Homo sapiens: one gene and its partners. The protein of the gene in region 6 purifies or fractionates together with the protein of the main gene of each other region. This does not show direct contact. Each region holds a gene or a part of one and is shown on either strand. Other genes may lie near its edges.

Region 1 (3,500 bases), about 43 Mb from region 6:
CCCTACTTATTTCACCAACTGTATTTTGTAGTATTCTTTATAATAAACTGGTAAATGTAGGTTTTCCTGAGTTCTGTGAGCCACACTAGCAAATTAACTGACCCCAAAGAGGCAGTCATGAAAACCATAACTTGAAGCTAGTCAGTCAGAAGTTCTAGAGGCCCAGACTTGCAAGTGGTGTCTGAAGGGGCTGGGGAGTCTTGTGGGACTGAGTCCTCACCCTGTGGAGTCTGACGCTATCTCCAGGTAGTGTCAGAGTTGAACTGGAGGATACCCTGCTAGTGACTGCTGCAGAACTGATTGCTTGCTTGGGGTGTGTGGAAAAAGTCCCCCACCTCCACCCCACATTTAGTCACAGAAATCTTCTTTGTTGATTGTTGTGGTATGAGAGAAGAGGAAAATTGTTTTTTTTTTTTTCCACTTACATACCAAAAGAGGGAAAAAAATATCTGGTACCCCAGAATTCTACATCCAGTGAAAATATTCTTAAAGAAGGTAAAATAAAAATATTTTCAGAAAGAGAATAAGAGAATTTGTCACTAGCAGATCTACAAGACCATAGAGAAGAGCCTAAAAGATAAAGAATAGAGGGAGACTTCAAACATGTAAAAGACATTTGCAAAACTGTTTTCTCTACCAGAAGGCATTTTTAAGATGATCTTGCCCAATCCCTTCATTTTACAGATAGGCAAACCAATAAAATTAAAGACTGTAAGATACTATAATTACCCAGCAGTTAATCTACCGGAAAGTAAGTCTATCGAGTTCTTAGTCAAAGGAATGGAAGGAAATAAGATTTCTTTCATAACGAGTCAGAATACTGTCATAAACAAGGCAGAATACAAAAATTCAGTAACAGGACCCTGTTAAAACTGGCATAGACAGGCTGGGCACAGTGGCTCACACCTGTAATCCCAGCACTTTGGGAGGCTGAAGGGGGCGGATCACTTGAGGTCAGGAGTTCAAGACAAGCCTGGCCAACATGGTGAAAATCTGTCTCTACTAAAAACACAAAAATTAGCTGGGCGTGGGCCAGGCGCCGTAGCTCCCACCTGTAATCCCAGCACTTTGGGAGGCCGAGGTCAGGAGTTCGAGACCAGCCTGGCAAAAAATGGTAAAACCCCGTCTCTACTAAAAATACAAAATTTAGCTGGGCATGTTGGCAGGTGCCTGTAATCCCAGCTACTTAGGAGACTGAGGCAGGAGAACTGCTTGAACCCAGGAGGTGGAGGTTGCAGTGAGCACTGCACTCCACCCTAGGTAACAGAGCAAGACTCCGTCTTAAAAAACAAAACAAACAAACAAACAAAAAAAACCTTATTTCTTAAAAACTACTAGAGCCTAGTGTAGCGGCACACACCCACAGTCCCAGCTACTGGGGAAGAGCTGAAGTGGGAGGATGGCTTGAGGCCAAGAGTTTGATTGAGCCCCAAAAAGAAAAAAGGCAGAAAAACAAAACAAAAATCCCCCAAAACAACCTACTAGACAGAGGTATTTGTTGCATACTTACGTAATATAATTAAGATAATCATGACATAAAAAACACAAAAATACTCCATTGCATAAAATACTATTTTGTTATATAAGGACATGTCAGCCAGGTGCAGTGGCCCATGCCTGTGATCCCAGCACTTTGGAAGACGGAAGTGGGTGGATGGATCACTTGAGGTCAGGAGTTCAAGACCAGCCTGGCCAACATGGTGAAACCCTATCTCTACTAAAAACATAAAAAATAGCTGGGCATCATGGAGCGTGCCTGTAATCCCAGCTACTCGGAGGCTGAGGCAGGAGAATCGCTTGAACCCAGGAGGCGGAGGCTGCAGTGAGCCGAGATCACTCCAGCCTGGGCGACAGTGCAAGACTCTGCCTCAAAACACAAAGAACTTGCCAGAAGTGGTGGCATGCACCTGTAGTCCAGCTACTAAGGGGGTTAAGGATGAAGGACTGCTTGAGCCCAAGAGTTTGAGGCTGCAGTGAGCTATGGTTGTGTCACTGCATTCTAGCTTGGGTAACAGAGCAAGACCTCATCGCTTACGGGGCAGGGGGAGTGTCAATGGGAGCAAACATGTCTAAAATATTACTGATTTTTCTATTTTATTTAAAGTATTATCATTGGTAATGAATGGAACATAACAGACTCTGAAATTTCTGGTGTATAAATACATGAAATAAAGCCATAAGACACAAAGATTAATGGAATTTCTCAAGCCCCTAAGACAGGTATATAATAAGGATGCAATCCACATCTTCAGAAATTTTGTCCAGTGCTGAGACAAAACAAGATGCCAAATTTCATTACGAAACACGATATATCTGAAAACAGTGAAAAATTACTATCTTGAGTCTCTTACGCATATTGAGTTTGTACAACTTTACAACATACATCTCAAGTGCTTCGCCATAGGTACTTACCCCAAAAGCTGGAACTTCTTCACTCTTTATTTCATTTATTCGAACCAAATAGTTAACAAAGTCTCTGGCAGCATTGCTTTGTGCATCTTTTTTATTGGTGGAATTTCCCATGCCAGTGTAATTATAACCTTCCACCTGAACCTTTAAAAAAAAAAAAAAGTACTAAGAGACTGACCTGGGTAATTCTGAGATTTTAAAAAGTCGTAATTCAGTAGTCCATTAAGAGACAACAAACAGCTAACTTTAGGAAATATACTCTATAAATATAAATATAAAAATAAGAGAATGCATGAGCTACTGAAAAAGCTTAAATTGTGTTGTATCCAAAAATAATTTAAGTGGCTCAGATTTTTTTTTCTCATATAACAGAAGGTTCACATTAAAATCTGATTCTGTAATATCCATGAACAAGCTCTCCATTTGTATTTAAGCACTTTGATTTGAAGCAATCAAGAATTGCTCTGCTTTCTAAACGTGCTTATAAAACTGCAAACAGTTGATCCAACTTTTCCCATCCCCACTACTGGTACTGAGGAAGCTGAGGAAGATATAGGCTCTAATTAGAATAATTTACCTGTCAGATTGTTTTAAAAGTAATGCTGACTTGAAAATGATTTACAATAGCAGTCAAGTCACAATAAAGAACTGTCGTTTCCTAATGTGCAACACATTAACATCTCCAAACAGAAAACATTTTTCTTTTAACCCCAAAATGAACCTCATAAATCACATAAATGCAAACTGTATTCTTCAGTACCTCACACATGAATTTCTGCCTGTTTTTGTTCCCCACTGCTCTAATTTCATAGGATGGGGTCATCTTCCTTTTGCCACACCAGGCATACAGAAAATTTTTAACGTCACCCATGATTCAAGTGTCTTCTTCAGATCTAAGAAAACAAAAGTCAGTTAAAAACAGCATTTATAATAGCAAAAACTGGGAGGAACCAATTATCTAGATTACTGAATCTGGGTTAAACATAGGATATTCTATCATGTTGCTATTAAGACTCCCCATAAATTTTAACGACATAATTGGAACGTTTATATGTTGTAAGAAAAAGGATACAAAACGGTATGATTTGAAC
Region 2 (4,288 bases), on a different chromosome or scaffold from region 6:
TCTCTGCTTCTATCTTTGCCCTCCTACATACAGTCTATCCTCAAGTAACGGTGATCTTGTTCTCATATAGGGTGGTTCATGTATTCTTCTGCTCAAAACCCTGTAAAGGCTTCCATCTCATTGGGAGGTAGAATCCCAAATTCACCCCCTTTCCTCATTCCCTATTTGGAGCCACACTGGCCTTTATGTTCCTGAAATCTACCAGGCATACCTACCCCAAGGTCTTTATACCTTCTGTTCCTTCTGCCTAGATCATTCTTCCTAAACATATGCACAGCTCTCCCTCATGTCCTTCAGGTTTTCACTCAAAGATTACTATCTCAAGAAGACCTTCCCTAACTATCCAATTTAAAACTGCAATACCCATCTCACCCCCAACATACATAAGTACTTTCCTATTGTCTTTTTTTCACAGCACTTTTCATTATTTAACATACTATATTATTTGTTACTGTATATCACCCCCTACTAGAATGTCATTTAATGAGCATAGAATTTTTATCGGTACAGCTCAATATTATGTAGTCCCAGGGCCCAGCATTGTGCCTTACATATAGCAGGTAATCAACAGTATTTGTCAAATGAACGAACTTCAGGAAATGGCACTATCATCTACCTAGACATATAAATAAAAAACCTGGGTGATCCTTCATTCCTTCTTTTTTCCTTATCCCCCACATCCACTCCACCAGAAATCCCAAGGCTCTACTAGCTCTACCTCCACGTAGAACAGCACGAATCTTTGCCCATAATTCCAATGACACCACAATCCCTTGCTTGGTTATTCTGAGATCCATTATATTAGTTACCCTGCTTCCAGTGTTGCTCCTCTACAAGCCATTCCACATGTAACTTCCAGAGTAAATTCTTAAAAAAAATATGTCAGATCATGTCACTCTCCTGCTTAAAACTCTTCAATCACTCCCCGAGGCACTCAGAGTGAAATCTAAACTCGTTAACAGGGCCTAAGAGGCTCTGAATAAGCTGACCCCTGCCTGCATTTCCTACATCATCTTCCACTGCCCTCTTCTATGCTGACTACACTTTAGCTACACTGGCTTCTTCTCTGCTTTTTTTCCACCAGTAGCTTCTGCACTTTCTATTCCTTGTACCTAAAATGATGTTTACCTGCCTGGCTCAATATCATCATTGCAGAGCCACCTTCCCTGTTTACGGGGTCTAAATCAGAAGCCTCCAATTCTAACCTATTCCCATCCAGTTTTATTTTCTTCATAATCTCTACCATAATAAGTCTACACTCACTTGAATGTAAGTCCAAGAGAAGAATGCTTTCTTATCTGTCTTATTCATTACTGTACCCCAACGCCTACCTAGAATAACAACACACAGTAGTTATATGTGATTTTGCATATATACTTAAGTGAATTAAAGAAGTAGTTATTACCCCCTTCTTACATATTAAAATACCCACATAGGCTCAGCGATTAACCTGCTTCGGTTACACAACTGGTTAACAACAGTCAGCAGCAGGAGTTATCTAACGGAATTATATAGACTCTCAACTTACCACTTTCTTTGCGAATGGCTATACAATGCTTTAAGCATCTCAAAGCCTTGCCTATGTTACTTAACTTCTTGTACTTGTTTCCTACTCTTTATTTCCACTACCTTGATCCTTGGAGAGGCTTTCTCTACTGGTGACCTAAGCCACTGAGATTGCCATGTGTTAAAAAGCACTCATAAAATACATATATGTGAAAATTTAGGGGAGGAGGGAAGTGAGAAGGGCAATGAAAAAATAAGTAATTGTGTTAGCCACTGAACAAATCACAATCTGGTAGAAGCACAAACATGTAATTGCAGCAAATGCCTAGCAGAGATACCTGTTTAATGCCCGTCTGATAAATGAGTGTCTGAAGGAAGCACCTGTCAGATTAATATATCAAAAACCACTTTCGTTTTGTCGGTACTTGGTTCAAACACCCCTAATGTTCACAACTTACATGAGGTCAGTACACAAAGCCCATCACAATGAGGGCCTAATTTTTCAACCTAATCTTTTCCCGAAGCAAATTCTGACATCCGAGTCATGCCAGTCTCCGGTAAGTTTGAATCCTGGCTTAACTAAATATACTAAGCTCCCGAGTCTGTCCGTTGTGCTTGAGAAACCCCCCCCCCCCCTTTCCTGGCACAGTCCAGGGTACACAGCCTGCTCTCAGAAACGGACGTCAATCGAAAGCATTCTAACATACGATTCATCAAAGGTTACCGACTAATTCAAGTTTGGGATTTCTGAAAAGAGGCTGAGAAATCCGCGTGGAAGTTGGTGGTTGGGTGCGGCCCATTTCTCTCTCCACTTCCGTGCGGACGAAGAAAAATATCTTAAAACAAAATGAGGTTTTAAAGGTGTTTCAGCGGCAGCAGGGCAGGTAGAAAATCCAAAGGGGCAACAGATTTTCAAGAGGTGGGGAACGAACCCTAAGGCATGTCCCGTCCCCAACCCCTTCTCTCCTCTGGAGGGACCCCTGAACCTAACAGAAGAATAGGCGGCGAGCCTGGATCCCAGCCCCACTCCATGCTTTCCCGCACCGGCGTCTCAACCATCCACTATCCGGCCTCTAGCGTCTGCCGCGCCGCACTCCCACCTCCTCGATGTAGGCCGGCGGGTCTCGCTTGATTAGATTCTGTAACTGCGGCAGGTTGCTGGGAAGCTTGTTGTTGTTTCTGTTGGACATTTTGGCTGCAGACAGACTTCGCGGCGAGCAGTTTTAAAAAAACTCAGACGGCCGGCACCCCGCAATCCCTGCCAGCTGCAGCTTGGACTCGTGTTTCCGGGTATGACCGGAAATAGCGCATGGGACTCTAGGCAGGCGACACCTTAGCGGTTCCTAAAGCGAGCTATGCTACGGAAGCCTCAGAGTGTCAAAATTACTCTCGTTGCCAAAATACTCTGTGGTGTATTGGAGAGCCAGCCACCGCCGACCCGCCCCTCGCCCTTGGGCATATGCTACTACTTAATATTGCCTTGCGTTTCTGAAAGGATCTGAAATGTAAATTTTTTCACGTGTGTTAGCATGTATCGTCATTCCGACACCCATATGAAGCACATAAATGAGGATTAATCGTTTATTTTTAATCCCGCAGTCTAAAATTAGAAACTGACGCCTGTAATCCCAGCACTTTGGGAGGCCAAGGCGGGCCTGAGGTCGGGAGTTCGAGACCGGCCTGATCCACATGGAGAAACCCCGTCTCTACTAAAATTACAAAATTAGTCGAGCGTGGTGGCGCATGCCTGTAATCCCAGCTACTAGGGAGGCTGAGGCAGGAGAATCGCTTGAACACAGGAGGCGGAGATTGCGGTAAGCCGAGATTGCACCATTTCACTCCAGCCTGGGCAACAAGAGCGAAACTCCGTATAAAAAACAAAACAAAACAAAACAAAACTGAAAAGAACCGTGGCGCTAGATAACACTATTCCCTCTTAGGAGGAAAAAAGAGCAACGAGGGTCATATAAGTTAATGTGTATGATTTTAGATATGTTTTTATTTTGGTTTTGGTTGTTTCAACTTAGCGTGACCCATACAAGGGAAAAGAGGGCTGGATAAAATGTGATCATGTTGACCATTAATAAATGCAATTAATCGTTAAAATTCAACCATCGTTATAAGCTTTGTAAGCACTCCTCAGTCAGAGTTTTTAATTCAGATCCTGGTAATTCGAAGAGGAGAATACATTTCTACAATCTCAAGGTGTAAAAAATCAATAAGGGTTGAATGAATGAGGTAGGGTGTTGTGAATTAGAGAGAGAGAAAAAAAAACCTAATTACCCACCCTGTGCCAGGCACTATTCCAAGCACTTGTATTAACTTATTTAATCCTCAGAACAACCCTCTAAAATAGGTGCTATTGTTATCTACATTTTACAGAAGAGGAAACAAGCTCAGGGAAGTTGACTGCCTCAATTCATAGCCTGTGAGGAAGATGAGATTTCAATCTAGACAGTCTTGATTGTAACTACATGAGAAAAAACATAGCCTAACAGCTGGTAGCTGGTTGCTGGTCTGGCAAAATAGCCAGACAATAGGGTTCTGCTTAACCAAAGCAATTTTATAGAACGCCAACCTCATCTGTGACGATGATAAAATGAGCCCCAAACAAAACAACTCTGTAATCACACCTGCACACAAAATAAAGAATGCTTCACAAACCATGTTATTCAGCTGCTTTTGGAGAATGACTTATTTATTAATTATCAAATCAGTTACCTGTGAAGTTAAGAAATAAATGTCAGCAATAAATCTTTTTTAAAAAGCATAGATTTAAATT
Region 3 (3,500 bases), on a different chromosome or scaffold from region 6:
TAAAATACTTTTCAACTAAGATCAATACAGATATGAACAAATACGATTTTTTAATACTATAGGATGAAATATGTCAACATTGGAAGAGCTGCATGATTTAGTGAATTGGGATTTTTCCAAATAATGTCGTAGAATTGTGGCATCAAGTAAAAGATAAAATAGACAAATGGGTATTACTGTAACAGACTCTGTCAATATGGTTTCAGATTCCACATGCAACACTGAAGTTTTGCTATAATATGTATGAAAGAAGAATACCCACAATTATCTGAAAATGCTTCTAAAATACCTTTCTTTCCTAACCTCTTCAATGAAAACAACAGATCACAACAGACAGAATCAGTAACAGACATGAGAATTTAGCTGTCTTCTCCTAGGTCAGAATAATGTGCAAATAAATATATTTGCAAAAATAGAAAACACTGCCACTTTTCTCACTATATTATTTTGGGGTCTGGAAAACAGTCACTGCTCAAAAAAGATATTAATGTTAGATAATTTGTTATATTTAAATAAATTAAAATGTTTTTTAGATTTCTCAATTTATAAATTATAAATATCAATAGATATAACTCACATACATAAAAGTTTTTTGGGATCCTCCAATTTTAAGAGTGGAAAATGGATCCTGAGACCAAAAAAATTGTGAACTGCAGATCTAGGGGGATATTCAACAAGCTTTAACAGTGGTTATCTCTGGGGTGGGATTGTAAGAAACTGTCACGTTTAGCCGGATATGGTGGCTCATGCCTGTAATTCCTACACTTTGGGAGGCCGAGGTAGGAGGATCACTTGAGGTCAGCATGACCTACATGGTGAAACTGTGCCTCTTCTAAAAAAAAAAAAAAATCCAAAAATTAGCCAGGTGTGGTGGTGCACGCCTGTAATCCCAGCTACTCAAGAGGCTGAGGCAGAAGAATTGCTCGAACCCAGGAGGCAAGGTTGCAGCTGAGACTGCACCACTGCACTTCAGCCTGGGCAACAGAGTGAGACTCCCCACCTCCCCCGAAAAAAGAAAAGAAACTGTCGCTTTCTATCACATATTTTTGTAAATATTCTAATTTGGGCACACAGTGTTTTTTAAATAGGGAAAAAATCTTCAAAAAAGAAAACCCAGCAATGTAGCAATGTTATGCAATGAACAACGTTCAAGACAGACTGAAAAGTTGGTCACATTCTTTATGTTTTCCCCATGTTATAAATATTGTTAGGCCTATCTTATTTCGTTCAAATAGTTTTAAAGGCTTGTAACACATGCATGCTATAATTGCATTTTCATTACAAAAAAATTTAAACATAGAAAAGTCTCAAAGAATGGGTCATGGTTATGACTGGGTCAGTAATTTGAGTTTTTTTTCTCTTAGCTTTTTAGTATTTTCTACTTTTCTATAAAAGCAAATATAAAAAACAAATAGCTCCAAAAGGTCAAATAAAATATCATGCCCAAAAATCAAGACAAAAACAAATTAAAAGAAATGCATGGCTATAAGAGTTCCAGGCACAAAATATCATGTCTGGTTCTCTAGCCCTGCCCATTAAAAATGTACCCACTACTGAAAGAGACAGAATGAAAGAAAACAGCCCAGTTCTAAGGAGCTAGTCCAAGCTGGTAGGAGTCAGCCAGGAGTGAAGACAGGTGCACAGCTGACAAGCACTGCCTCCCTCCCCACCCCGAGATCAGTTACCTTTCCAGGTTGTAATACTCTAGCCACATGTTGGCGTACTTGGCATTTCCTCTGGTCATGATGCTATCCCAGAGTTCCCGAGCTTTCTGCATGTTATTGCACAGTCGAGCCTAAAGTGCATCAGCAGGCTGTTAGGAGACCTGAACCTTATGACGTCGACACCCATCATACAACACACTTCCAACAGACACACATAAAAAGCACCCCACAACTATTAGTGTTACAGATGTCCCTGGGCATTCCCCAGGCCTCCCTCCAGTGGTAAACGACCCAGCCCAAACACTTGAGCCTTTCTGCAGCCACAAGCTAATCTACCTATGTTTCCTGAGAACCGAGAGAGGGAGCGCACGGTACTTACTCGACAGTACTAGATAGTCACGTTTTTTATTTTTATCAAGCTTAACTACAAGTGTTTGAGAGACAATGTTAAAAAAAAAAAAAAGACTGATCTAGTATTAAATGCACACTCTGCTACTAATACTTACAAACTGTGACTTGGGCAAATTACTTAACCTGTAATTCTCAGTTTTCTCATCTTTAAAATGGTTAAAAGATAAGCATCCCATATAAAAACTACCTGACAAATGTTAGTTTCTTCTATCTGACGCTCCCTCCGAGGAGAAAACATGATTAGAATTGTTACAATCCTACCTGCTGATCAAGGGAGGTTCCGTGTCTTACTGACCTTGGTGTCCCTGACCCAGTAATGACATTCAAGTCATCATATCCTCTAATTACTTGTCAAATCATCTGTCTTCTACATTAGATAGAAGCCTTACTAGCAAAGGAATTTTATCTGTCTTATTCCCACAGCACCTAGTACAGTGCTGACAAACAGTACACGCTCACTGTGCTCTCACAAATGAAGCAAAGAGGCAGAGACAGAAGTAAACGAGTGAATACCTAGCATCTAAACATTTACTGCACAACTTCTAGCTGGGAGCTAATATTTTCACCAACATATTTACAAATATATGTCAAGCTAGGTAAATAACATGAATCCTTGTGGAGCCTAGACCATTACCTAGGTAATAACATAAATCCTTATAGAGCTTAGGCCATTATCTGGGATTCTGACTCAATTTTAATTAAAGTTTAATAGGATGCTATTAAACAATGATGGATGAAAGTGCTAGATGTGTCAAAAACATTTACCTCAATCCTAGCCCAGTTCTGCATAATCACGCAGCTTGGATCACCACTCTCATTGAAACCTTCAAAAACAGAATTAGTAAAATTAGAAAGGAACTTGGAGACAGATAGTCGCTGGCTGAAAAGGTACATCAACCAGGAAATAGTACAGACAAGGAAATACAACTGGGCAAAACCACAGGCTGGGGCATACTTACGCTCTTCCACCTCCTGCTTCAGATACTCCAAGGCACGAGTAAAGGCGGCCCTCAACTCCTCCAGCTCTTTACTGGAGTCTAACGGAAAGTGCAAAAAAAGGCTTTAGGAAACCACATAGCCTGGCTTTGTTTTATTTTTTATCCTATGCTGAAACTGCCTGGAGACCCACTATGTACCTGGCATCATGCAAGGGACACAGAAATAAAATTGCCAATTCCTGCCCTCATCACATAGTTGGGGAGAAAGAAATTTGAACAGAATAGAGCATGGACAGCGTGGTGAAAAAGGCAAACACAGGGTGCTGTGGGGGGGAGTCTCCCCCAGCTGGGGTGACACAGGCAAACAAGAGAATGGCTAAAGGCTACCTGTATGAGGTGACAGCTGACATGAGTGTGCAAGTACAAGTTAGGGGTTTTCTGGTTGTTTTCGGGGGGACATGAAGGGGCAAAGGATCCCACAGAGGTA
Region 4 (3,500 bases), on a different chromosome or scaffold from region 6:
GTGCCCTCGATGATTATGGTTACAAAGGTGGCTTTGAGCATTCGCCCATTCTAGGAGATCTCAAACTGCCAAGATCAGCAAGTTCTGGCTCTCCCATTCAGCTTCTGGTCACCCTCCAACTGTCCTCTCTCACTTCTTCCAGATGTCAAGTCTTACCTGCCTCTAACACGATCCCTTCCTGTGATTCCCATCGGCCCCCAACCAATACCATTTGCTACTTCTAATCTGCCATAGACTGGGAAACTGGATAACCAAAGCATTTTATCTTCTCACGTATAAACCCTATCTACCTAATTTGAATGCAAGTTCCTCAAAAGCTTGATTCCTGCTTGACACCTCTTGGAATCCCCTGCACCCAGCATACTGCTCTGGATACAGGAGCCATTCAATGATTGCTGATAATAAATTTCTGAAGGCCTTTTCTCCACATAGAATGCATGGGCTTTATGACAGCTGTTTCCATCATTTGGCTTTTCTGCTTACTTCCACATTCCCAGCTGTGTTCTGGATGGTTGCACCAGCTAGAAGCCTAGGGATTTACTGTACTTCTATTTCTTGATAAGATACTTGAAGAGAATAAACACATGGCAAAGAGGACATTAAAGTAAGGGATAAAGAGATTTATTTTAATTTTACCAATAAAGAAAAAGGGAAGAAATATCACCTAGCATGTTGACACTTAATCAATAAATGACAGCAAGGCTGGATTCTGTTCTAATTCTTTCCAAAGTATTCTCATTGTGCTTGTCTTATGTCTCTACCTGCAGCAAAGCAGCACTCAGTTGTGGTTCACACTTATATCTTGATTGAAAACATTTTCCTCCATGTTTGACACACCTTTCTCTTAAATCCAAGTTAGCCAAAATTAAAACAACCATGCACTGATTCTAAACTAAAGGCTTTATCTCAAACAACATTTTGTGATGAATCTCATTGGAAAATTTAGAATAATAGAATCTCAGAGATGGAAGGGACCTAGGCCAGGCATGCTGGCTCACGCCTGTAATCCCAGCACTTTGGGAGGCCGAGGCGGGCGGATCACGAGGTCAGGAGTTCGAGACCAGCCTGGCCAACATGGTGAAACCCTGTCTCTACTAAAAATATAAAAAATTAGCCAGGAGTGGTGGTGTGCTCCTGTAATTCCAGCTACTCAGGAGGCTGAAGCAGGAGAATCACTTGAACCCAGGAGGCGGAGGTTGCAGTGAGTGGAGATCATGCCATTGCACCCAGCCTTGGCAACAGAGCAAGACTTCGTCTCAAAAAAAAAAAAAAAAAAAAAAGAAAATTAAAAAAAACTACCATGGGCCAGGCACAGTGGCTCACGCCTGTAATACCAATACTTTGGGAGGCCAAGGTGGGTGGATCACTTGAGGCCAGGAGTTCAAGACCAGCCTGGCCAACATGGTGAATCCCCATCTCTACTAAACATACAAAAAACCAGCCGGGTGTGGCAGCACACACCTGTAGTCCCAGCTACTCGGGAAGCTGAGGCAGAAGGATCGCTTGAACCCAGGAAGTGGAGGCTGTAGTAAGTTGAGATCACGCCATTGCACGCCAGCCTGGGTGACAAGAGCAAGACTCCATCTCAAAAAAAAAAAATACACACACACACACACACATTCATCCATCCATCCATCCATCCATCATGGCCTAGTCCTTCCTGAAAAAAGTATTATTTCATTGGTATGGGGTGGTACCCAGGCATTAGTATATTTTAAAAGCTCCTCAGGTGCCAGGTGGTTCAATTTCACCCCATTTTTCAAAGAGGGAAGAACCTCACCAAAGGTATTTGACAACAAATTTGCCAGAGTTAGGCTAGAACTACTCATCCTAACAAGCCATGTCTTCTCCATGTAAACTACTCCATCTACAACAGTGGAGTCTCTTCCCTCCCTCACTCTCCCTCTCTGTCCAACTATCCCCACCTATCTCAAAGTAAATATATTTTCTGAATATTCTTTGCCTTAGAATCCCATTGCATAATTTTTAAAAACCTAAATGATGTATGTCTGCTTCCCTGTATCCTCATGCTTTTTTTTCCACACAAAGAATCCCGAGAGATCAATCAGGCATGGTTTACCCTTAAAGAAGCCATATTGCTTCTCCCTAGATAGGTTGGACTCAACCCACCCTTTTCACCATTATTATCACACATGCCATCTTTCAAATCCCTTGCAAGATTCAACTTCAATTCTCTGTCAGCCCACTTAATTTCTAGTTTGTACCTGGGCCTTGTGAAACCTAGTGGACTTCCCTCTTCTGGCTTAAACTCTTTGTATTTTGTGAAAGATGCCTTTTTCCCTGAAGCAGCCTCTTTTACTCTGCCAGTTAGTCATGCCGGGTTCTTTTTTTCTTCCCCCGAGCAGTTGGTCTTTTTGATGTCTGGCACACATTTATCTGGGCTTCCAATAAGATGTTTTTACATAGTTTCCAGGCTTCCTGGAGGTTATTGACTTTTTTAACTCTCCCATTCAGTTTTTTCCCCTAATTTCTAACATTTGTTAGAGTTTCTTTCTCAAAAGTTGAATACCTGGCTGATGCAGCTCTTTGATTTTTCTCTCCCACCAGATTGCTGAATTAAATGCATCAGAACTTAAACATAATATTTCAAATTACCTCCAGGATGGAATCGCTTCATGCATTTTCTGCACTTTCATGTTCTCTATAGTAAGCAACAGATGTTTAACCAAGTAGATTTGAAAATGCTAGTTTTTACCTGTTTGTATTTTAGTATGTCTGTTTATTTATATAAAATATTCTGATACCCTTCAAAGCTTGTGTTCTTCTTGGTAAAGACAATAAACTTGAGTTTTTTTATGTTAAAAGGTAACTGATGCACACTGAACAGTTGCATGTGGTAAATTTGCTCTAAATTGCCTAATCACAACAGTCTCAACTGTTCATTCTTTAAAGAAGTGTATCTCAAGGCATTAAGAAAAACAATTCTGAATCTTTCTGAAAAATTCCTGGCCAGTGCAGTAGCTCATGCCTGTAATCCCAGCACTTTGGGAGGCCGAGGTGGATCACCTGAGGTCAGGAGTTCAAGACCAGCCTGACTAACATGGAAAAACTCCATCTCTACTAAAAATACAAAATTAGCCGGGCATGGTGGTGCATGCCTGTAATCCCAGCTACTCTGGAGGCTGAGGCAGGAGAATGGCTTGAACCAGAGGCGGAGGTTGCGGAGAGCTGAGATCGTGCCATTGCACTCCAGCCTGGGCAACAAGAGCGAAACTCTGTTTCAAAAAATAAAAAAAAATCCTATAAGCATTCAGTTATTAATGAAGTGGTAAAGACAAGTACTCCCCCAAAAGAATAAAAACGTTCTCCAAGCTATACCAACATATGCATATTTACTTTAAATTTATTTCACTTCAAAGTGTTTAGATACAGGCCTGGAATGGTGGTTCATGCCTGTAATTCCAGCACTTTGGGAGGCTGGATCATTTGAGGTCAGGAGTTCTAGACCAGCCTGGCCAACATGGTGAAACCACGTCTCT
Region 5 (3,500 bases), on a different chromosome or scaffold from region 6:
TTTTTTTTTTTTTAACTTTTTACTGTCAAAAATTTCAGACAGTGACAAAGGGTAAAAATAATAGCAAAATGAACCCCCATGTTCTTATCACTCAGCTTCAGCAATTATTGGTCATAGCTGATCTTATTTTATTCCTGCATACCCTTACCTTCTTCCCCACTCCATATAATTTTGAAGCAAATCTTAGCCATTGTATCATTTCATCAGCGAGAATTATAGTGTTTGTCTTATCTACCAGGACTTCTAGCTCTCTGATTTTATGGGACTCTATCGGACAAAGGGACTGAGCTGTAGCACATAGTAGAAAGAAAGTGACTGCAGTTCGTGGCCTTACAGCATTTGTTCTGTGAGCCAGCCCACAGATCCTCAACACTTTGTCCCCTGTGGAGCGTCGAGGATATTTAATGAATCCCTTTTGGACTATTTTTAGAAGGAGAAGATGAGGAAGACGAGGACGATGAGGATGGTGAAGAAGAGGAGTTTGATGAAGAAGATGATGAAGATGAAGATGTAGAAGGGGATGAGGACGACGATGAAGTCAGTGAGGAGGTCAGTGCAGCTGTTTTCTACCCTGCTTCCTATTTGTAATTACAACAAAAGTGGGGGTTTCAAAAAGATGACAAAAGAAAAGAAAAAACACCTTTTGAAGAAATTAGTATACCTGTGAATACATTTACAATATGAATCTGGTTAATTTAGTGTTTGTCTGGCTTTAAATAACTACTAAATAGAATGCCTACTGAACTCAAACTAGTACGGTTCCTGGCTGTGCAAGGTAAGTTCTGGCCCTCTGGGGGAAGGAATGAATTGAGTATTCAGTGTGGTGAGAAAACTGGACATGTTGAGAATTGATGGTATGTCTGTTCCTTCATTGAATTGTAGGGAAGTTTATGTTTACCAAGTCTAAACTTTTTCTTGTATATTCAGTGTAATTCAGTAAATATATATCTGCTATGTTAAAGAGTTGGGAGTACAAAATGAAATGAGATTGTGGTCCTGCCCTGAAAGAGCACAGTCTGGTTTATGAAATACCCAATAATAGAGGATCCCTGAGGAAATAAATGCTATACGAGGGCAGGAGAAAACAGTGTCTTGACTTTGACCCTCAAAGAGGTTTGGGAAACAGGCAGACAACATTAGTTGTTAACAAAACGCATCCTCTTTTGTAGTATAAAAATAAGGCTTGGGGTTTGTGTGATGTCATTAGGTGTATGATTGACATTAAAGTTCTGAAAGAAGCTTTGTATATGAATGGGATATAGAAATTTTTGTCTAAATCTGTTTTGAAATTTGAGATTTTAAGATGTTTTCTTGAATTATCCAGAGTTATATACTAATTAAACATCTAGCAAATGAACTGCTTGCTTCTAAAAAAAATTTTTCTTAGAAAAATTATAAAGCTCGTTAAGGAAAATCAGTGGGTCTTGGTACATCAAAGTAGATAAAAATAACATTACAGTTTCCTGCTTGATTGATATTGTTGCATTTATTTGTACTTCTTAGTTTGGCAGAATTTGTACTATATGCACTTTTCAATTTGGCAGAATTAATTTAATGTTATGCTGTTTGCTATTCTTTAGGAAGAAGAATTTGGACTTGATGAAGAAGATGAAGATGAGGATGAGGATGAAGGTGGGCCTAATGCATGCATTTTGATCATTCTCAGTTAAAAATTAGAGAAAAACATCCATTATTTAGAATATGATACCACTGAGAAGAAAATAAAATACTCTTGGCTCTGGTGGTTTACACATTCACATTCTCGTTTCTATCGTCCCATCAGTGTGTCTGTGCTGGTGCAGGCTCCCTGCTGCTACAGCAGTTATTCCTGTCTCATGGCAAGGGTCCTGTTGGTCTTCAGTCCTCATGGGGTTTTTTTCGGGGTGGTGGTGGTGGTGGTGGTGTTTTGAGACGGAATCTCGCTCTGTTGCCCAGGCTGGAGTGCAGTGGCACGATCTCGGCTCACTGCAAGTTCCGCCTCCTAGGTTCAAGCCATTCTCCTGCCTCAGCCTCCAGAGTAGCTGGGGCTACAGGCGCCTGCCACCACGCCCAGCTAATTGTTTGCATTTTTAGTAGAGACGGGGTTTCACCGTGTTAGCCAGGATGGTCTCAATCTCCTGACCTCGTGGTCCACCCGCCTCAGCCTCCCAAAGTGCCGGGATTACAGGCGTGAGCCACCACACCCGGCCTGTTGTTTTCTTGAGATGGAGTCTTGCTCTGTCGCCCAGTCTGGAGTTCACTGGTGCAATCTAAGCTCACTGCAGCCTCCACCTCCCAGGTTCAAGGGATTCTCTGCCTCAGCCTCCTCAGTAGCTGGGATTACAGGCATGCACCACCACACTTGGCTAATTTTTGTATTTTTAGTAGAGACAGGGTTTTGCCATGTTGGCCAGCCTGGTCTTGAATTCCTGGCTGAATTCAAGTGATCCACCCACCTCGGCCTCCCAAATTACTCGGATTACAGGTGTGAGCCACCATGCCTAGCCTGTTCCCCATGTTTTAAATGTGTTTTTAGGACCAGTCATTTGGTTTACTGTCAAGTGTGAGTTTCTGTGTTTGGAGTTCTTTCATTTTTTAAAAAAAGGCTTTAATAATTGAACCATCATTTTCAGGATATATAAATAGATGTAGCAGTTTCCCAGTTTTGTCAGTGTTAGTCCTTTCCCCACTACAACCAAGACAAATGAAATAGCTGTTACTTATTTAATACTGTTGAAAGTATGCCAGCCTGGACAACATAGACCCTGTCTGTACAGAAAATTAAAAAGTTAGCTGGGACCGGGTGTGGTGACTCACGCCTGTTATCTCAGCACTTTAGGAGGCCGAGGCAGGTGGATCACCTGAGGTCAGGAGTTCGAGAGCAGCCTGGCCAACATGGTAAAATCCTGTCTCTACTAAAAATTAAAAAATTAGTCAGGCGTGGTGGCACGCACTCAAACCCAGGAGGCAGAGATTCAGTGAGCTGAGGTCATGCCACTGCACTGCAGCCTGGACAACAGAGCAAGACTCTGTCTCAAAAAAAAAAAAAAGTTAGCTGCACATGGTGGTGCACACCTATAGTCCCAGCTACTTGGGAAGCTGAGGTGGGAGGACTGCTTGAAGTTGCAGTGAGGCTATGATAGTGCCACCGCACTCCAGCCTGAGTGACAGAGGGAGACCTTGTCTCAAATAAAAAGTCTCATGGTTGTGTCTCAGAAAATCAGGTGTTCACTGTGCTGTTGGCTGATGTTTTCTCAGCATCCACTTTGTCAAGCTCTCAATTACATTTACACTAGATATTACCCTGGTTAGGACCTGGTCACTGCCTTTAAGAACCTGTATGATTGGGAGGCCGAGGCGGGTGGATCATGAGGTCAGGAGATCGAGACCATCCTGGCTAACACGGTGAAACCCCGTCTCTACTAAAAATACAAAAAAATTAGCCGGGTGTGGTGGCAGGCGCCTGTAGTCCCAGCTACTCGGGAGGCTGAGTCAGGAGAACGGCATGAACCCGGGAGGCG
Region 6 (3,500 bases):
GGCCATATTAATCTTCATCATCAAAATTTTAGCACATGTCCTATGAGAGAATGTACATACCTTCTCACTGAAATTTCTGACAGAAAAAGATTTTAGGTCCATAGAAGACAGTATTCTAAATCAATTATGGGATTAGAAAAATGATGGATACATGGGATTATAAAAAAGTCGAAGTTAACATGGATCCTTAATTATATTCAATCATTAACAGGGCAAAAAGAGCCATCAATTGGAGATAAGGCCTTTTGTATTAAAATTCGTTCTGCATTTATTCCCTTATTTTATTTTTTTTGAGACCGAGTCTAGTTCTGTCACCCAGGCTAGAGTGCAGTGGCACAATCTTGGCTCATTGCAACCTCTGCCTCCCAGTCCCAGGTTCAAGCGATTCTCCTGCCTCAGCCTCCCAAGTAGCTGAGATTACAGGCACCCACCACCATGCTAATATTTGTATTTTTAGTAGAGACGGGGTTTCACTGTGTTGGTCAGGCTGGTCTCGAACTCCTGACCTCATGATCCGCCCACCTCAGCCTCCCAAAATGCTGGGATTACCAGCACGAGCCACCGCGCCCGGCCTATTCCCCTATTTTTAAGACAGGACATAGGGGTTTTTCTTCAGCAAGTATACCTAACCACTCTGTGACAATCACAATTAAAATTTTTCTGTGTGGAATGTCAAGATTTAAGAAGTACTTAGTGGTTCACACCCATAATCCCAGTGGTTTGGGAGGCTAAGGCAGAAAGATGGCTTGAGTCCAGGAGTTCCAGATCAACCTGGGCAATATAATGAGACCCTGTCTTGACAAAAAAATTTAAAAATTAGCTGAGTGTGGTGGTGCACACCTGTAGTCTCTGCTATTCAGGAGGCTGAAGCAAGAGGACCGCTTGAGCCCAGGAGGTCGAGGATGCAGTGAGCTATGATCATGCCACTGCACTGCAGCCTGAGCAATAGAGCAAGACACTGTCTCTAAAAAAAAAAAAAAGCAATCAACCAACCAATCAACAAACAAAAGAATACATGTACTCAATCTACCAAGGGTAAGCACTCATGTTAGATACTTTCATATATTTTTTTACTATCACTATGATACTTTACAGATGAGGAAATTGAGACCAGAAGGCTAAATTTTTGGCCTAAACTTTTCCAAGGCCAAAATGCTAGTAAATGACTAAGCTAGGATTCACATCTCTTCAATCTATGTCTAGTATACTACATCTCGATTCACTCTTCCTTTTCCACATGTTTAGCTACTCACTACATTCAATTGGTTCTTAGAAGACATGGTAATCACTAAAAGGTCTAACTTCATGCAGTCTCATCATAATGGAACCCTGAACACAAATACAATATATGACCAAAGACAAAAAGTGATTTTTAAAATCACTCTATAAAATTTTCAAAAGAACTAACTATTTAAAAAATGTTTACTGAGTGCTCTCTGGGTCAAGACATCATAGTAGGCAATGGAAATAAGACATGTAAGAATATTACTGATCTATCTCTATTGTCTTGAAGGGCAGTCTATTAAAAAGACAAATGTGATAAAAGAATTGTGATACAGCACAAAAAGCCAAAATGAAAAGCAAGAAATGAAGTAATCCTCAAGTTGGGTTTTGAAAGATAAGCAGCAGTCTGGCCACATTAGGGGTGGAGGTGGGATTCAATATTGCAAAGGAGGAAACAGAATGTTTGAAAGCACTGAGGCCTAACACATCACAGCACATTAAAGGAGCTCTTACATAATACAGAAATGACAGAGATTAGAGAGGATGCAAGGGTGGAGTTTAAAGGTTTCTAAGCAAGGGAGTAACAATCAAATTAGCCTTTCAGAAATCACTCTGGGGCTGGGCGTGGTGGATCACACCTGTAATCCCAGCACTTTGGGAGGCCGAGGTGGGTGGATCGCTTGAGGTCAGGAGTTCAACTCCAGCCGCCTGGGCGACATGGTGAAATCTCATCTCTACTAAAAATACAAAAATTAGCTGGGTGTGGTGGTGCCCACCTGTAATCCCACCTACTTGGGAGGCCGAGGCAGGAGAATTGCTTGAACCCGGAAGGCAGAGGTTGCAGTGAGCCAAGAATGAACCATTGCACTCCAGTCTGGGTAATAGAGCCAGACTCCTTCTTTAAAAAAAAAAAAAAAAAAAAGTCCAGGCACAGTGGCTCACGCCTATAATCCCAACACTTTGGGAGGCCAAGGCGGGCAGATCACGAGGTCAGGAGTTCGAGACCATCCTGGCTAACAGGGTGAAACCCCGTCTCTACTAAAAATACACAAAATTAGCCAGGCGTGGTGGCGGGCGCCTGTAGTCCCAGCTACTCAGGAGGCTGAGGCAGGAGAATGGCGTGAACCCAGGAGGCAGTTTGCAGTGAGCCGAGATTGCGCCACTGCACTCCAGCCTGGGCGACAGAGCGAGACTCCATCAAACAAACAAACAAATAAAAAGAAAAGGCCAGGCGCAGTGGCTCACCCCTGTAATCTCAGCACTTTCAGAGGCCAAGGTGGGTGGATCATGAGGTAAAGAGATGGAGACCATCCTGGTCAACATGGTGAAAACCCCGTCTCTACTAAAAAAAAAAAAAAAAAAAATTAGTTGGGCGTGGTGGTGCACGGCTGTAGTCCCAGCTACTCAGGAGGCTGAGGCAGGAGAATCACTTGAACCCAGGAGGTGGAGGCTGCAGTGAGCAGAGATCGCCCACTGCACTCCAGCCTTGCAACAGAGCGAGACTCCGTCTAAATAGAAATCACTCTGGGCTGTGCACTGTGGCCCATGTGTGTAATCCCAGCAACTTGGGAGGCTGAGTGGGAGGACTGCTTGAAGCCAGGAGTTCAAGACCAGCCTGGGCAACATAGCGATATCCTGTCTCTAAAAAAATTTTTTTAATTAAAAAAAATCCCCAGATTTCTGACCACGTGGAAAATAATGCAACTAAAGGTAGGAAGGTAGGAACAGAAGAAGCAGCTAGTTTTTTTGTTTGTTTTTTTGAGATGGAGTCTTGCTGTGTCACCCAGGCTGGAGTGCAGTGGCACGATCTCTGCTCACTGCAAGCTCCACCTCCCAGGTTTATGCCATTCTCCTGCCTCAGCCTCCTGAGTAGCTGGGACTACAGGTGCCCGCCACCATGCCTGGCTAATTTTTTTGTATTTTTAGTAGAGATGGGGTTTCACCGTGTTAGCCAGGATGGTCTCGATCTCCTGACCTTGTGATCTGCCCACTTGACCTTCCAAAATGCTGGGATTACAGGCATGAGAAAGAGCTAGTTTAAGAACAGATGATAGGCCGGGTGGGGTGGTTCATGCCTGTAATCCCACCATTTTCGGAGGCCGAGACGGGTGGATCACGAGGTCAGGAGATCCAGATCATCCTGGCCAACATGGTGAAACCCTGTCTCTACTAAAAATACAAAAAAAAATTAGCTGGGCGTGGTGGTGGGTGCCTGTAGTCCCAGCTACTCGGGAGGCTGAGGCAGAAGAATGGCATGAACCCGGGAGGCAGAGCTT
Region 7 (3,500 bases), on a different chromosome or scaffold from region 6:
GGCTAATCCCGGTGCTGAGGTTGTTTAGAGCGTCAAATTGCTGTTGAGTATGGGGCAGTACAGTTCATGAATTGAAAAAGTCCTGCTGGGCGCGGGGGTTCACACCTGTAATCCTAGCACTTTGGAAGGCCGAGGCGGGCGGATCATGAGGTCAGGAGTTTTAAGACCAATCTGGCCAGCATAGTGAAACCTCGTCTCTACTAAAAATACAAAAAAATTAGCCAGGCATGGTGGCGTGTGCCTGTAGTCCCAGCTACTCAGGAGGCTGAGGCAGGAGAATTGCTCGAACCGGGGAGGCGGAGGTTGCAGTGAGCTGAGATCGTGCCACTGCACTCCAGCCTGGGTGACAAGAGCAAGACTCCATCTCAAAACAAAACAAAAAAACCAAAAAAACCTCCTACACAGAGGTAAGATGTAAGTTTTTTTTTTTATTTCAGAAGATTGCATTCCAAAGCCAGATATTGGTAATTACTCACTCTGAGGGTTTATCTGTGCCTTTCCGGAACTGAGTGGATAATCAGGAGTTAGCTGAATTTTCAACAAGGGCTATTTGTGGTAGTTACCAGGGGCAAGTGGCCAACTTCACATGGCTAATAGCCTGGGATGTCTTCCTGAAGGATGTTCCCAGAATCAAGGACAGTCCTAGTGTGGCACCTTTTTTTTCTTGGCTGAACCTTTAGACTGGCAAAGCCCTAGGTGTGGGGAGGGGAGGATTGTGGGTCTTCATAGATGAATTTTGTAAAGCCAGCTTGGTAGATCTGTCATATATGGCATGGGACTTCTCCATCTCAGTTTGATGTGCTGTTAGTAAACCTAGATGATTCCTCCATGACAGGCCTTGTTTACAGGCCACTTTGTAATTATTCTCCAAACTAGTGGTAACCACCTTACTCTCAAGACATACATTCCAGCCACTCAAAGTTGCCTTTTTCTTTGCCTTAGAATGGAGTTGCAAGCTTCTCAGAGGAAATTAAGTCCCACAGTAGCCAGGAGCCATCTAGATAAATGATCTGATAGAGATAGGGCTCTGTATGGTTTTTGCTCTGCTTTTCACTTAAACTAATTTATTTAGGCTCTTGATAATTCAGAGATAAGTAATAGTACTGGAATAGTCACCATTTACTGCATTTACTGAGTGTCTCACCTGTTCTAGCCCAAGTGATCTGCTGAGCAGATGCTTTTTTTTTTTTTTTTTTCTTTTTTTGAGAAAGAGTTTCTCTCGTTGCCCAGGCTGGAGTGCAGTGCACGATCTCAGCTCACCGCAACCTATGCCTCCTGGGTTCAAGCGATTCTCCTGCCTCAGCCTCCCAAGTAGCTGGGATTACAGCCATGCACCACCACGCCTGGCTAATTTTTTGTATTTTTACTAGAGATGGGGTTTCTTCATGTTGGTCGGGTTGGTCTCGAACTCCTGACCTCAGGTGATCTGCCCACTTCGGCCTCCCAAAGTGCTGGGATTACAGATGTTAGCCACCGCGCCTGGCCCAGCAGATGCTCTTTTTATTCCCACTTCACAGATGAGGAAAGTGAGACTCAGGAGACGTTTAGCAACTCTGTCCTTCTAATTGCTCAGACTAAAGACCTTAAGATCATCCTTGCCACCTCTGTTTTTTTTTTTCTGGCTGGTTGCAGTGGCTCACACCTGTAATCCCAGCACTTTGGGAGACCGAGATGGTAGGATCATGTGAGCCCAGGAGTTCAAGGCTGCAAGTGAGCTGTGATTGTGCCACAGTACTCCAGCCTGGGCGACAGAGTGAGACCCTGTCTCTAAAAAGTAAATGTCTTTTTGTGACCCCACATGTAATGTACTAGTACATCCTTTGACAATTAAACACTGTGTCCTGGCCGGGCACAGTGCCTCATGCCTGTAACCCCAGCACTTTGGGTGGGAGGCCAAGGTGGGCAGATTGCTTGAGCCTGGAAGTTTGAGACCAGTCTGGGTAACATAGGGATACCCCATCTCTTACAAAAAAAAAAAAGTACAAAAATTAGTCGAGCATGGTGGTGCGTGCCTGTAATCCCAGCTCCTGGGGAGGCTGAGGTGGGAGGATCACTTGAGCCTTGGGAGGTAAAGGCTGCAGTGAAAGATGAGTGTGTCACTGCACTCCAGCCTGGGCAACAGAGCAGGACTGTCTCAAAAAGAAAAAGCTGCCTGGGTGCGGTGGTTCACGCCTGTAATCCCAGCACTTTGGGAGGCCGAGGCAGGTGGATCACCTGAGGTCAGGAGTTCAAGACCAGCCTGGCCAACACAGTGAAACCCTGCCTCTACTAAACATACAAAAATTAGCTGGGCGTGGTGGCATGCGCCTGTAATCCCCAGCTACTCGGGAGGCTGAGGCAGGAGAATCGCTTGAACCTGGGAGGCAGAGGTTGCAGTGAGCTGAGATTGCACCATTGCACTCCAGCCTGGGTGACAGAGCAAGACTTCATCTCAAAAAAAAAAAAAAAGCTGCATCCAGGTTGGGTGTGGGGGCTTATACCAGTCATCCCAGCACTTTGGGAGGATCACTTGAGCGCAGGAGTTCAAGACCAGCCTGGGCAACATAGTGAGAGACCCCATCTCTTTAAAAAAAAATTAACTGGGTGTGGTGGTGCATTCCTGTGGTCTGAGCTACTCTGGAGGCTGAGGTGGAAGGATTGCTTGAGCCCAGGAGGTCGAGGCTATATTGAGCAAGAGCCACTGCACTCCAGCCTAGGCAATGCAGTGAGACCATGTCTCAAAAAAAAAAAAAAAAAAAAAAAAACTGGCTGGGCGTAGTGGCTCACACCTGTAATCCCAGCACTTTGGGAGGCCGAGGCGGGAGGGTCAGTTGAAGTCAGGAGTTTGAGACCAGCCTAGCCAACATGGTGAAACCCAGTCTCTACCAAAAATACAAAAAGTAGCTGGGCGTCATCGTGCACACCTGTAATCCCAGCTACTTGGGAAGCTGAGGCACAAGAATCGCTTGAACCTGGGAGGCAGAGGTTGCAGTGAGCCGAGATCATGCCACTGCTCTCCAGCCTGGGCAACAGAGCAAGACTCCATCACAAAAAAAAAAAAAAAGAAACAACAAAAAAAACCTATGTCCAGATCTAAATGCTTGTACCGCCTCGTCTCTTGCTGGCCTGGACCATACATCATCATTTCTCATGTAGATTTTTGCAGCAGCCTCTTAACTGGTCTCCTATCACTCCTACTTAAAGCCCTCTGGTAACTTCTTAGCAGAGTAAAATTCAGAGTCCTTAGAGTGTTCTCTAAGACCGCACTTGATCTGGTCTCTGTCCACCTAACCTCTGACCTCATCTTTCATCACTTGCCCCTTCTTCACTCATTCCCTTCCAGCATCAGTCCTCACTTCCTGAAACATGTCATGTACTCTTTGCTTTGGGTCTTATGTTCTGTAGTGCTCTTCCCGCAGATCACTGTGGTGGAAATGCCTTCCCAGACCACCCTATATAGACTAGCAAGTCCTGACCTTGGATTCCCTCTCTCCATCCCTCTTACCCTGCTTCATTTTTCT

The links.
Region 1: the proteins of SRP9 (region 6) and DHX9 purify together in Homo sapiens (affinity purification with mass spectrometry; one large-scale study listed by BioGRID and IntAct). This does not show direct contact.
Region 2: the proteins of SRP9 (region 6) and SDAD1 purify together in Homo sapiens (affinity purification with mass spectrometry; one large-scale study listed by BioGRID and IntAct). This does not show direct contact.
Region 3: the proteins of SRP9 (region 6) and SART3 purify together in Homo sapiens (affinity purification with mass spectrometry; one large-scale study listed by BioGRID and IntAct). This does not show direct contact.
Region 4: the proteins of SRP9 (region 6) and GPC4 purify together in Homo sapiens (affinity purification with mass spectrometry; one large-scale study listed by BioGRID and IntAct). This does not show direct contact.
Region 5: the proteins of SRP9 (region 6) and ANP32B purify together in Homo sapiens (affinity purification with mass spectrometry; one large-scale study listed by BioGRID and IntAct). This does not show direct contact.
Region 7: the proteins of SRP9 (region 6) and LARP1 purify together in Homo sapiens (affinity purification with mass spectrometry; one large-scale study listed by BioGRID and IntAct). This does not show direct contact.

What each region holds. Positions count from the first base shown.
Region 1 is NC_000001.11:182,842,347-182,845,846, reverse strand, and holds part of DHX9 (ATP-dependent RNA helicase A), read right to left. Parts: intron 3,303-3,500; 5' UTR 3,281-3,302; coding exon 3,170-3,280; intron 2,554-3,169; coding exon 2,413-2,553; intron 1-2,412. UniProt on the Homo sapiens protein: Multifunctional ATP-dependent nucleic acid helicase that unwinds DNA and RNA in a 3' to 5' direction and that plays important roles in many processes, such as DNA replication, transcriptional activation, post-transcriptional RNA regulation, mRNA translation and RNA-mediated gene silencing.
Region 2 is NC_000004.12:75,988,146-75,992,433, forward strand, and holds the start of SDAD1 (protein SDA1 homolog), read right to left. Parts: upstream 2,801-4,288; 5' UTR 2,697-2,800; coding exon 2,607-2,696; exon of another isoform or gene 2,566-2,606; coding exon of another isoform or gene 2,551-2,565; intron 1-2,550.
Region 3 is NC_000012.12:108,533,674-108,537,173, forward strand, and holds part of SART3 (spliceosome associated factor 3, U4/U6 recycling protein), read right to left. Parts: intron 3,113-3,500; coding exon 3,035-3,112; intron 2,900-3,034; coding exon 2,841-2,899; intron 1,796-2,840; coding exon 1,686-1,795; intron 1-1,685. UniProt on the Homo sapiens protein: U6 snRNP-binding protein that functions as a recycling factor of the splicing machinery. Promotes the initial reassembly of U4 and U6 snRNPs following their ejection from the spliceosome during its maturation.
Region 4 is NC_000023.11:133,405,490-133,408,989, forward strand, and holds part of GPC4 (glypican-4 precursor), read right to left. Parts: intron 1-3,500. UniProt on the Homo sapiens protein: Cell surface proteoglycan that bears heparan sulfate. May be involved in the development of kidney tubules and of the central nervous system.
Region 5 is NC_000009.12:98,010,841-98,014,340, forward strand, and holds part of ANP32B (acidic leucine-rich nuclear phosphoprotein 32 family member B), read left to right. Parts: intron 1-430; coding exon 431-549; intron 550-1,580; coding exon 1,581-1,632; intron 1,633-3,500. UniProt on the Homo sapiens protein: Multifunctional protein that is involved in the regulation of many processes including cell proliferation, apoptosis, cell cycle progression or transcription.
Region 6 is NC_000001.11:225,784,326-225,787,825, reverse strand, and holds part of SRP9 (signal recognition particle 9 kDa protein), read right to left. Parts: intron 965-3,500; coding exon of another isoform or gene 857-964; exon of another isoform or gene 841-856; intron 1-840. UniProt on the Homo sapiens protein: Component of the signal recognition particle (SRP) complex, a ribonucleoprotein complex that mediates the cotranslational targeting of secretory and membrane proteins to the endoplasmic reticulum (ER).
Region 7 is NC_000005.10:154,761,877-154,765,376, forward strand, and holds part of LARP1 (la-related protein 1), read left to right. Parts: intron 1-3,500. UniProt on the Homo sapiens protein: RNA-binding protein that regulates the translation of specific target mRNA species downstream of the mTORC1 complex, in function of growth signals and nutrient availability.